Regions from separate parts of the Homo sapiens genome. Here region 2 is reported to be linked to region 1. Evidence: microRNA targets listed by miRTarBase, many of them from high-throughput screens and not tested one by one. Region 1 holds a microRNA gene; the other region holds the end of a gene's coding sequence.

Region 1 (4,068 bases):
ACTGCAGCCCTGACCGGCTCGGTGGGGCGCAGGGAGCCTCGCGGTGCAGCCTGCGTTCCGGTTGGGGTGTCCGCTCTTCCCCCGAGGGGCCTCCCAGCGTCTTTGAAAGGAGCTGGAGCGACGCTCAGAGGTGAGGAGCTTGGTCTGGGTAGCAAGGAGGCTCTGATTTCCTGTCTCCACTCAGCAGCAGCGTGACTTTGGGCAAATTGCTGATCTGTGAGCTCGTGTCTTCCTGGCTGCAAAGCAGGAGGAATGATGGCGCTGCCGCTGCGGTTGTGCAAATGAAGGAGCCCAGCGTCTGCAGAGCGGCCTGCTCAACGCCTGCCGGTGACCTGAGAAGTGGCTTGTCATTTCCTCCCCAGTCAGGCCCTCCTGCGGGAGGGGTGCCGGGGCTCTGATGGCTGTACACGTGCCTGGGTTTCTGTAGAGGATAGAGAGAGGAGAGGCAGGGAGGCTTGCCTGGGAGTCTGCTACCAAAACCATGGAATTCTGTCTCGGGGAGGCACCTTGCAATAAAGAAGCAGCCTCCACAGGCCCCCTGGGAAGTCACCCCCATGGCTGTGTCTGGAGATGAGCTCTGGGCGCGGGGTGCAGCCTGGGAGGGCCAGTGTGCCCCCCACCTAGGGTGGTCCTGCAGCCTTTGCCTTCTATTGCGGATGGTGGCGGGTTGGCCGAGCTTTGGGGACCAGTTTCCTCCAAAGTTACTATGGCCCCAAGGCTCTGGGGACAGGGGCAGGTGGCTCTGGGCGTGGACAGAGCTTGCTCCTTGAGCTGGAAACCCTGGCTAACGAGCGAGCAGAGGCCCTGGGACCACCAGGGGCTGTCGAGCTGCACTCTCCAGGCTGCCAGAGGCTTCCATTAGGCACACTGGTGTTTGATTTTGTTTCCTTGGAAGACCTGGAGTTTTTGTCGGTTCTGAGTCATTTTTCTTGATCCGCGCTGCCAGTTCCATGAAGAAAATCACTTTCAAACAGATGTGGAGGAAAGTGCACCTCCTCACTTGTCCAGACCCGGCCTGAATTCACATGGAAAGGTAATCATTTCCCGCCATGAGCTCACTGAGAGTCTGACAGCACTGTGAGGGGAGGTGGCCAGCCAGGCACCCAGCCTGAGCCGTGACCAGAGGTCCGAGCCAGAGATGCAGCCTTGGGATCTCAGCCTGCGGCGCTGGCCCTGGGGCCACACTCAGCATGGGGGACGCCAGGCTGGAGCAGACGCCAGACCCAAACAGCCGCTCTGCCCCCGGGGACTTTGGCAAGGCTGCTGCCTACGTGAAATGATGGAAAGGTCTAGGCTGGCCCCAGGTCCTTTCTGGCATGGCCTCAGGATCTTGGCAGGAGGATAACAATGCCAGGAGGGGGTGGGCTGAGTCATGTGCCTCCTCTCAGGGGCCTGGCTGCAGTGGTCAGGGGCAGGGTGGCTCATTTTGCGGGCACCGGTGCCCTGCACCTGGAGGAGGACCAGCAACAGGACTAGCCAGGTGGCCGCAGGCCCTTAGGACACAGGGGAGGCCCAGGATTTATGGGAAGGAAGGAGCAGAGCACCTGAGTCTGGGGACATCTCGGGACAGGCACTGCCCCCAGCAGCCTCAGCTTCCCCCCATAAAAGGGACAGACGCTGCCCCATGCCTTTAGCTCCATCACTGTCCAGGGACAGGGACTAAACCCTAGACCCCTCATCCCCAAGGAGTCTTGGACTGCAGGTCCAGCTCTGCAGAGGGGCTGCAGGGAGCATCCAGGGCCCATACTCGTCTGCTCATCTCTCAGTCTCTGTGTTTATGGAACACCAGGGGATGCCAGTGCTGTGCCAGGAGGGGCGGTCGGTGCTGAGTGAGGCCTGCTTCCCAAATCAGGCACATTCTTATGAGACTAAGATTTGTCCCTGCTCATGGACATTAAAAAAATGTCAAAGACAGCAGGATTAAGCGGAATCACAGTGTCCTGCCCCCAGTCCCTAACAGAATAGAAAGGAAAAACTAGAAAAATAATCCCAGCAGAAAACAAACAAGGCCATACACTTTGAAAATTTGTAGCCAAAGACCAGGTGTAGTGGCTCACGCCTGTAATCCCAACACTTTGGGAGGCTGAGGCGGGAGGATCACTTGAGCCCAGGAAATTGGGGCTGCAGTGAGCTCTGATTGCGCCACTGCACTCCATCCAGCCTGTGTGGCACTGTGAGACCCCATCTCAAAAAAAAAGAAAGAAAAATTAGTAGCCAATAAAATAAGCAAAAGATTTCAGAGTAGAGCAGAAGGCAGATTCGTGTGGCTCTGACCTGCCACCAAGCCTGAGTCCCACTGGTACACAAGCGGAGCCCCAGGCCGCCTCTGTGCTTGGGATCTGGAGACAGGGAGTCTTGCAATGCCTCTGGCAGACATGGGAAGATAACTGTGAGTTGAAACTCTCCGTAAGAAGTGGAGGCTCCAGGGATGCGTTGGCCTGTGGGCATGGCCTGAGACCAGGACTGGATGCACCACTCTCCCTGTGATGAGGTGAAGCCAGCTCTGGTCTGGGCCATTTCACAGGATTCCAGAAGCAGGAGCAGAGCCTCAGCATTTGAACGAACCTTCTTCCACTTCGGCTGAGCTCCTCCTGCCACCACCATCCTTGCAGGCTTCCCGAAGGTGGCCTGAACACAAACTGCCTGGGCTTCCTGTGGCTAAGAGGGGAAGACGAGCCTTTGCCAGGTTTTGTGGAAAGAGTTAAAACCCCTCCAGTGCTGTGTTAAAACATATGAGGACCCAGTCAGAGCTGCTCGGGCTTGAAGAGAATGGAAAGGCAGGGAAGGGGAGGGCAAGTGACAGGCAAACGTCCCACAGAGAAACCCGTGACTCAGTGCTGGAGAAGGGACCACAGCATGCGCAAGATAAACATGCGGAAGGCAGAGGACGCACAGCTCGTGAACAGAAAAAAAAAATATTCCTGTGCTTTGCCTAAGAGAACAGTTTGATAAGAACATGAATTCAATAAAATAAATGTCAACAACGTATAAGACTAAGAAATGAAAATAAGATGTCAGACCTCAGGAAGCAAACAGAACCGAAACAGTGTCAGAACCAAACCAATACATTTCAAACAGCAACAAACGACATAGCAAGGCTGAAATTGCTATTGACAGAAATCCATCGTTCTCCAAGTGTGGCTCCTGGACCAGCGGCCCCAGCCTCCACCTGGGAGCTTGTCGGAAATGCAGGTGTCTAGGCTGCACCCAGGCCTGCTGGCTCAGGCGCCCTGGTGGGTGGGCCCCAGCAGCATCTGTGTTTAGCAAGGTGATTGCAGCGCACACTACCGCGTGAACACCGCTGCCCTAGAGGAAAGGCTGAAGACAGCCACAGTAAGTAAAGGTAAACGTGGTAGAGGGATGAAAACTGTTGTGAACTTTGTATATGTAAAACTAATTTATAGGAAGGTGGACAAAGGCAGTCCGGCAAAAGAATCACTGGTGTTCAGACCAAAGTGATTCCAAGTGAAATAGTTTGTGCACACATGGTGTGATCTTTCAATATGCAGAATCCATTTGTTTTTCTCATTTCAGAGGATTTTAAAATCTAAGGTCCATACTGTTTTGGTGCAGAAAATTCACTAGTTTTACTTTCATTTGCTTATGTTGAAAACTGATATTAAAATAAATTAAATGTAATTTAAAATAGCATTGATAGATCCCATTTCATGAAAGCATACCTGTGTTTCTGTTGATATACAGGCATAAAAATATCAGGATGTTGTTCACTGATGTAGATGGTTTTTCTGAAGAGAGGAATTTGGAATTTTTTTTCCTTTCTTCCTTGAACCTTTTTTTCTTTTTTTTTTTTTGAGACAGAGTCTTACTCTGTTGCCCAGGCTGGAGTGCAGTGGTGCGATCTTGGCTCCCTGCAAGCTCCGCCTCTCAGGTTCAATCATTTTCCCACCTCAGCCTCCTGAGAAGCTGGGATTACAAACGTGCGCCATCATGCCCAGCTAATTTTTGTATTTTTAGTAGAGATGGAGTTTTACCATATTGGCCAGTCTGGTCTCCAACTCCCGACCTCAGGTGATCTGCCCGCCTTGGCCTTCCAAAGTGCTGGGATTA
Region 2 (4,068 bases), not on the chromosome of region 1:
ACATCTGGACTGGAAAGGGGCTTGCCTCTCCTTCCCAGCTCCAGGCCTTGGAGTAGACAGGCCCCTTCTCCCTCCCTGCCTCCTCGAATACCGGGAATTCCGACGCCGCTGGGAGCCTGGGCCAGGCTGAGAACTTTCCTTCAGCCGGGAATGTGCAGCTGGGGCGGAGGAGGGGAGCGTCGGCTGCGGTCCTGACCTTGGGGAGGCTCCAGTGGAGTGGATCACTCCAGGCTGAGGAGTTCACCTCCGTCACCACGGGGCCCCCGGGACACAGCCTCGGCCCTGGTGTACAGTAGCCAGTCAATAAACAGTAAGTGAGCAGAAGCCAGCAGCTAATATTTATTGAGCCAGGCCCTGTGCTGGCAACTGTGCTCAGCTAATTATCAGAATCCCCTGAGGTGTGCACAGTACCAGGCCACAAGCCTCATGCGGGCAAGGCAGTGTTCTCTCATGTATCCCCACTGGCAAGAACAGCACCCGGCACAGGATAGGCACATTTATTTATGTATTTCATTTTATTTTTTTGAGACAGTTTTGCTCGTCTCCCAGGCTGGAGTCTAGTGGCGCAATCTCGGTTCACTGCAACCTCCACCTCCCAGGTTCAAGTGATTCTCCTGCCTCAGCCTCCTGAGTAGCTAGGATTACCGGCACCCACCACCACGCCCAGCTAATTTTTTGTATTTTTAGTAAAGACGGGATTTCACCATGTTGGCCAGGCTGGTGTGGTCTCGAACTCCTCACTTCAAGTGATCCACCTGCCTTGGCCTCACGAAGTGTTGGGATTACAGGCGTGAGCCACCGCACCTGGCCAGGACAGGCAAATTTAATGGTAGACTTAAGCCAAGCTGTGTGGATTCGAGTCTCAGTGCTGCACCTTCCTAGCTGTGCGACTAGGCAAATCCCTTAGCCTCTCTGTGCCTGCCTCAGTTTCCTCACCTCTAGACTGAGGATTAAAAAACATGCTCACTTGCATATTAGGAATGTAATGAGGACAGTGAACGAGCTTATATAAAGCGGCTGTAATGCTCATAGTATGTGCTTAGTACCCAGGAAATCTCAGCTTATTTGCTGCTAACTGATTGCTAAAAATTCAGATTCCTGGGCAGGGTATGGTAGCTCACGCCTGTAAACCCAACACTTTGGGAGGCCGAGGTGGGCGGATCACCTGAGGTCAGGAGTCCAAGACCACTATGGCCTGGCCAATATGGCGAAATCCCGTCTCTACTACAAAATACAAAAATTAGCTGGGCGTGGTCGTGGGCGCCTGCAATCCCAGCTAGAGGCAGGAGAATCACTTGAACCTGGGAGGCAGAGGTTGCAGTGAGCCGAGATCATGCTATTGAACTCCAGCCTGGGCAACAAGAGCGAAACTCCGTCTAAAAAAAAAAAAAAATTCGGATTCCCAGCCAGGAATGATGGCTCACGCCTGTAATGCCAGCACTTTGGGAGGCCGAGGCGGGAGGATCACGAGGTCAGGAGATCGAGACCATCCTGGCTAACATGGTAAAACCCCGTCTCTACTAAAAATACCAAAAAAATTAGCCGGGCGTGGTGGCGGGCACCTGTGGTCCCAGCTACTCGGGAGGCTGAGGCAGGAGAATGGCGTGAACCCGGGAAGCGGAGCTTGCAGTGAGCCAAGATCGTGCCACTGTACTCCAGCCTGGGCAACAGAGCGAGACTCTGTCTCAAAAACAAAACAACAACAACAACAACGAAAAATTAGCTGGGCATGGTGGTGCACGCCTATAATCCCAGCTATGTCGGGAAGCTGAGGCATGAGAATTGCTTGAACCCAGGAGGTGGAGGTTGCAATGAGCCAAGATTTTGCCACTGCACTCAAGCCTGGGTGACAGAGTGAGACTTTATCTAAAAAAAAAAAAAAAAATCAGATTCCCAAGCTCCTCCTTCCCTGGGGATCCTGATTCAATAGGTTGGGACTAGATACTGGGGGATCTGTGATTTGAATGATGCTCCTAAGCAAGTCAGAGGTTCAAATATGTTTGGGAAGTGGAAGGATATGCTCCCTAAATCTTTCAATGATCCCAGGAGGGAAGTACTGTTGTCTTCATTTTGTAGATGAGAAAACCGGCTCAGAGGGAGGACCCACACCAAATAAGTAAAGATGGGACTTGAATTCACAGCCAGGACACCAGGGTGCTTCAGAGAATCCTAGGGGAGCTTACATAAATAATGTGCTAAAGCACAAGAGGCTAAGTATTTGATGAAAGTAGCTAATATCATCACCAAAGAAACCGTTTAAATTGTGCCTCTCACTGGGCATACCACTGCTGGAACAAGGGGGCAGACAGAACCTAACATAAAAGCCTTTTGTCTCCACGACCTGAATTATTTTGCTGGGGGAGGGAGCATGTGGATGAATTGTAGAGGCTGCAAACTGCGGGGAGGAGTGAAGGGATCTGAGGTATGTGAGTGGGTACAAGAACTGGGATATTCAAGAGGAACTGACGGGAAGGATGCCAAGGGAAATCAGACAGATGTGGGACAGACTTATCCCAGAGCCCCAAAATTGATCTCCCCCGTATCAGCATGGAATTGTCTCTGAAGTATCATAGTACTAAGACCCCGGAGAGTCCAGTGAGGGAGGGATGGGGTATGTCGATGGATTGGGAGATGGCTGGGTGAATATGTATGGATGGCAAAATGAGTGGATGAATGGACAGATGGAAATATGGAGGGAGAGACGGACTGATGAACGGAGTGCTGGATGGAGAAGATGGGTAAGTGGGAAGATGGATAAATGGAGGGATGGAATGCCAGATGGGGTTAGAATGATAAAGGGATGGGTGGGTGAATAAGGCAGACAGTTGGATAAGCAAGGCAGATACGTGAGATGATGGATTGGAAGATGGGTAGATGGAGCGGGAAAGCTAGATGGAGCAATAGCCAGATGGATAGGTGGAGAGATGGCAGGGTGGGTGAGATGAACGGATGGTGGGAGACGTGAACTGTATAAATTGCCAAGGGAATGGATTTCTAGTGTCTACTTGAAGCAAAGCTTCTTAACTTGGCTTTCCTGGATGGGCATCAAGCAGTTCACACACACGCCAAGTTATAGTGGGTCCATTTTCCAATAATTCTCAAAGGAGTCTGAGATTCCCCAAGCTTTCAGAACCGCTGATTTGTTCTGTGTCAGACCTTCCCATTCATTGTCTTGTCATCTCCCACAGCCTCCAGAATGGGAAAATACACATCATTGCATGAAAGAATCAGTATTAACAAAACATTAATGACATTCCTCCCTTCCCCATCCCTGTGGATCAAGGCAAGAAGGGCCATTCGCCGATGCAGATACCAGGAGTTGGAAGGCCGCAGCAGTTTTGAGGCCTGCGTTCAGTGTCTGGACTTCCAGGTCAAGTTCTGAGGGTCTATGGCATCTGGCTGAAATCCTTGCTTCAGGGAAGCCTCATGTCCTGGCTCACATGTGGAAGGGGGCATCAGGAGCCCCCTGGGCCCTGTGAAGGCCCATAGATTCCTGTGTGGAGGCCAAGAGAGCAGGGTGGTTCAACCGGACCTGGGCCTTGGCTGGCCGCAGCCGCCCACCCCCGCCCACGTGGATGTTAACCGTCGTGGCATAGCTGAGCCGCCTGGCTGGGGGAGGTGGTGGCTGGGGCTGGGGGGGCGGCGAAGATGCCCGTGACGTGGGAGCAGAGGACCAGGAGCCCCGGGAGGCTGCGGGGGCCCCTCCCCCAGGCCCCTGCCGCCGAGCCAGGCTCTGGCTGATATATGAGGCTGCCAGGTATCTGGAGAGGGCAGCTGCATTGGGGCCCAGGAGCTGACGGCTGGAAGGTGGGGGACTATGAGGTGGCGTCAAGTCTGAAGACTCCAACCTGGCAACGTGAGAGGCTAAGGAGCCTCCTGGTTTGGACAAAACCATGGTGGTCTGAACTGGGGTGGGTGAGAGGCCCTGAATGTCTAGAGAGCCTCCTCTCTCAGGTAAAGGTGTGGCAGCTGGAACATGGGCATCTATGAGGCTCTTCTGCTCCAACGAAGGTGTGAGTTTTTGGACCTGTGTATCTGTAAGGCTTGGCTCCGGAAGTGGAGGTGCAG

The links. The annotated mature microRNA hsa-miR-4786-5p reads UGAGACCAGGACUGGAUGCACC and lies in region 1 at 2,453-2,474, shown strand. An mRNA with a match to its seed (bases 2 to 7 or 8) in the 3' UTR can be bound and repressed. Matches are read on the target gene's strand: a 7mer-m8 pairs with bases 2 to 8, a 7mer-A1 pairs with bases 2 to 7 and ends in A, and an 8mer does both.
Region 2: the mRNA of PLEKHG2 is a reported target of hsa-miR-4786-5p. Seed matches in the 3' UTR shown: 7mer-m8 at 1,483-1,489.

Annotation. Positions count from the first base shown.
Region 1 is chr2:239,941,469-239,945,536 of GRCh38, reverse strand. It overlaps MIR4786 (microRNA 4786), which reads left to right and starts at 2,443; the gene lies at 2,443-2,522. It also overlaps a transcript of NDUFA10 not described here. RefSeq lists enhancers at 1-67, 198-247, 1-752.
Region 2 is chr19:39,424,663-39,428,730 of GRCh38, reverse strand. It overlaps PLEKHG2 (pleckstrin homology and RhoGEF domain containing G2), which reads right to left. Exons shown (of 19, transcript NM_022835.3): 19 at 316-4,068. The coding sequence ends at 3,437. Among named protein-coding and RNA genes, the nearest start is that of RPS16, 9.3 kb to the left of the region's middle. RefSeq lists a silencer at 1-262 and an enhancer at 33-678.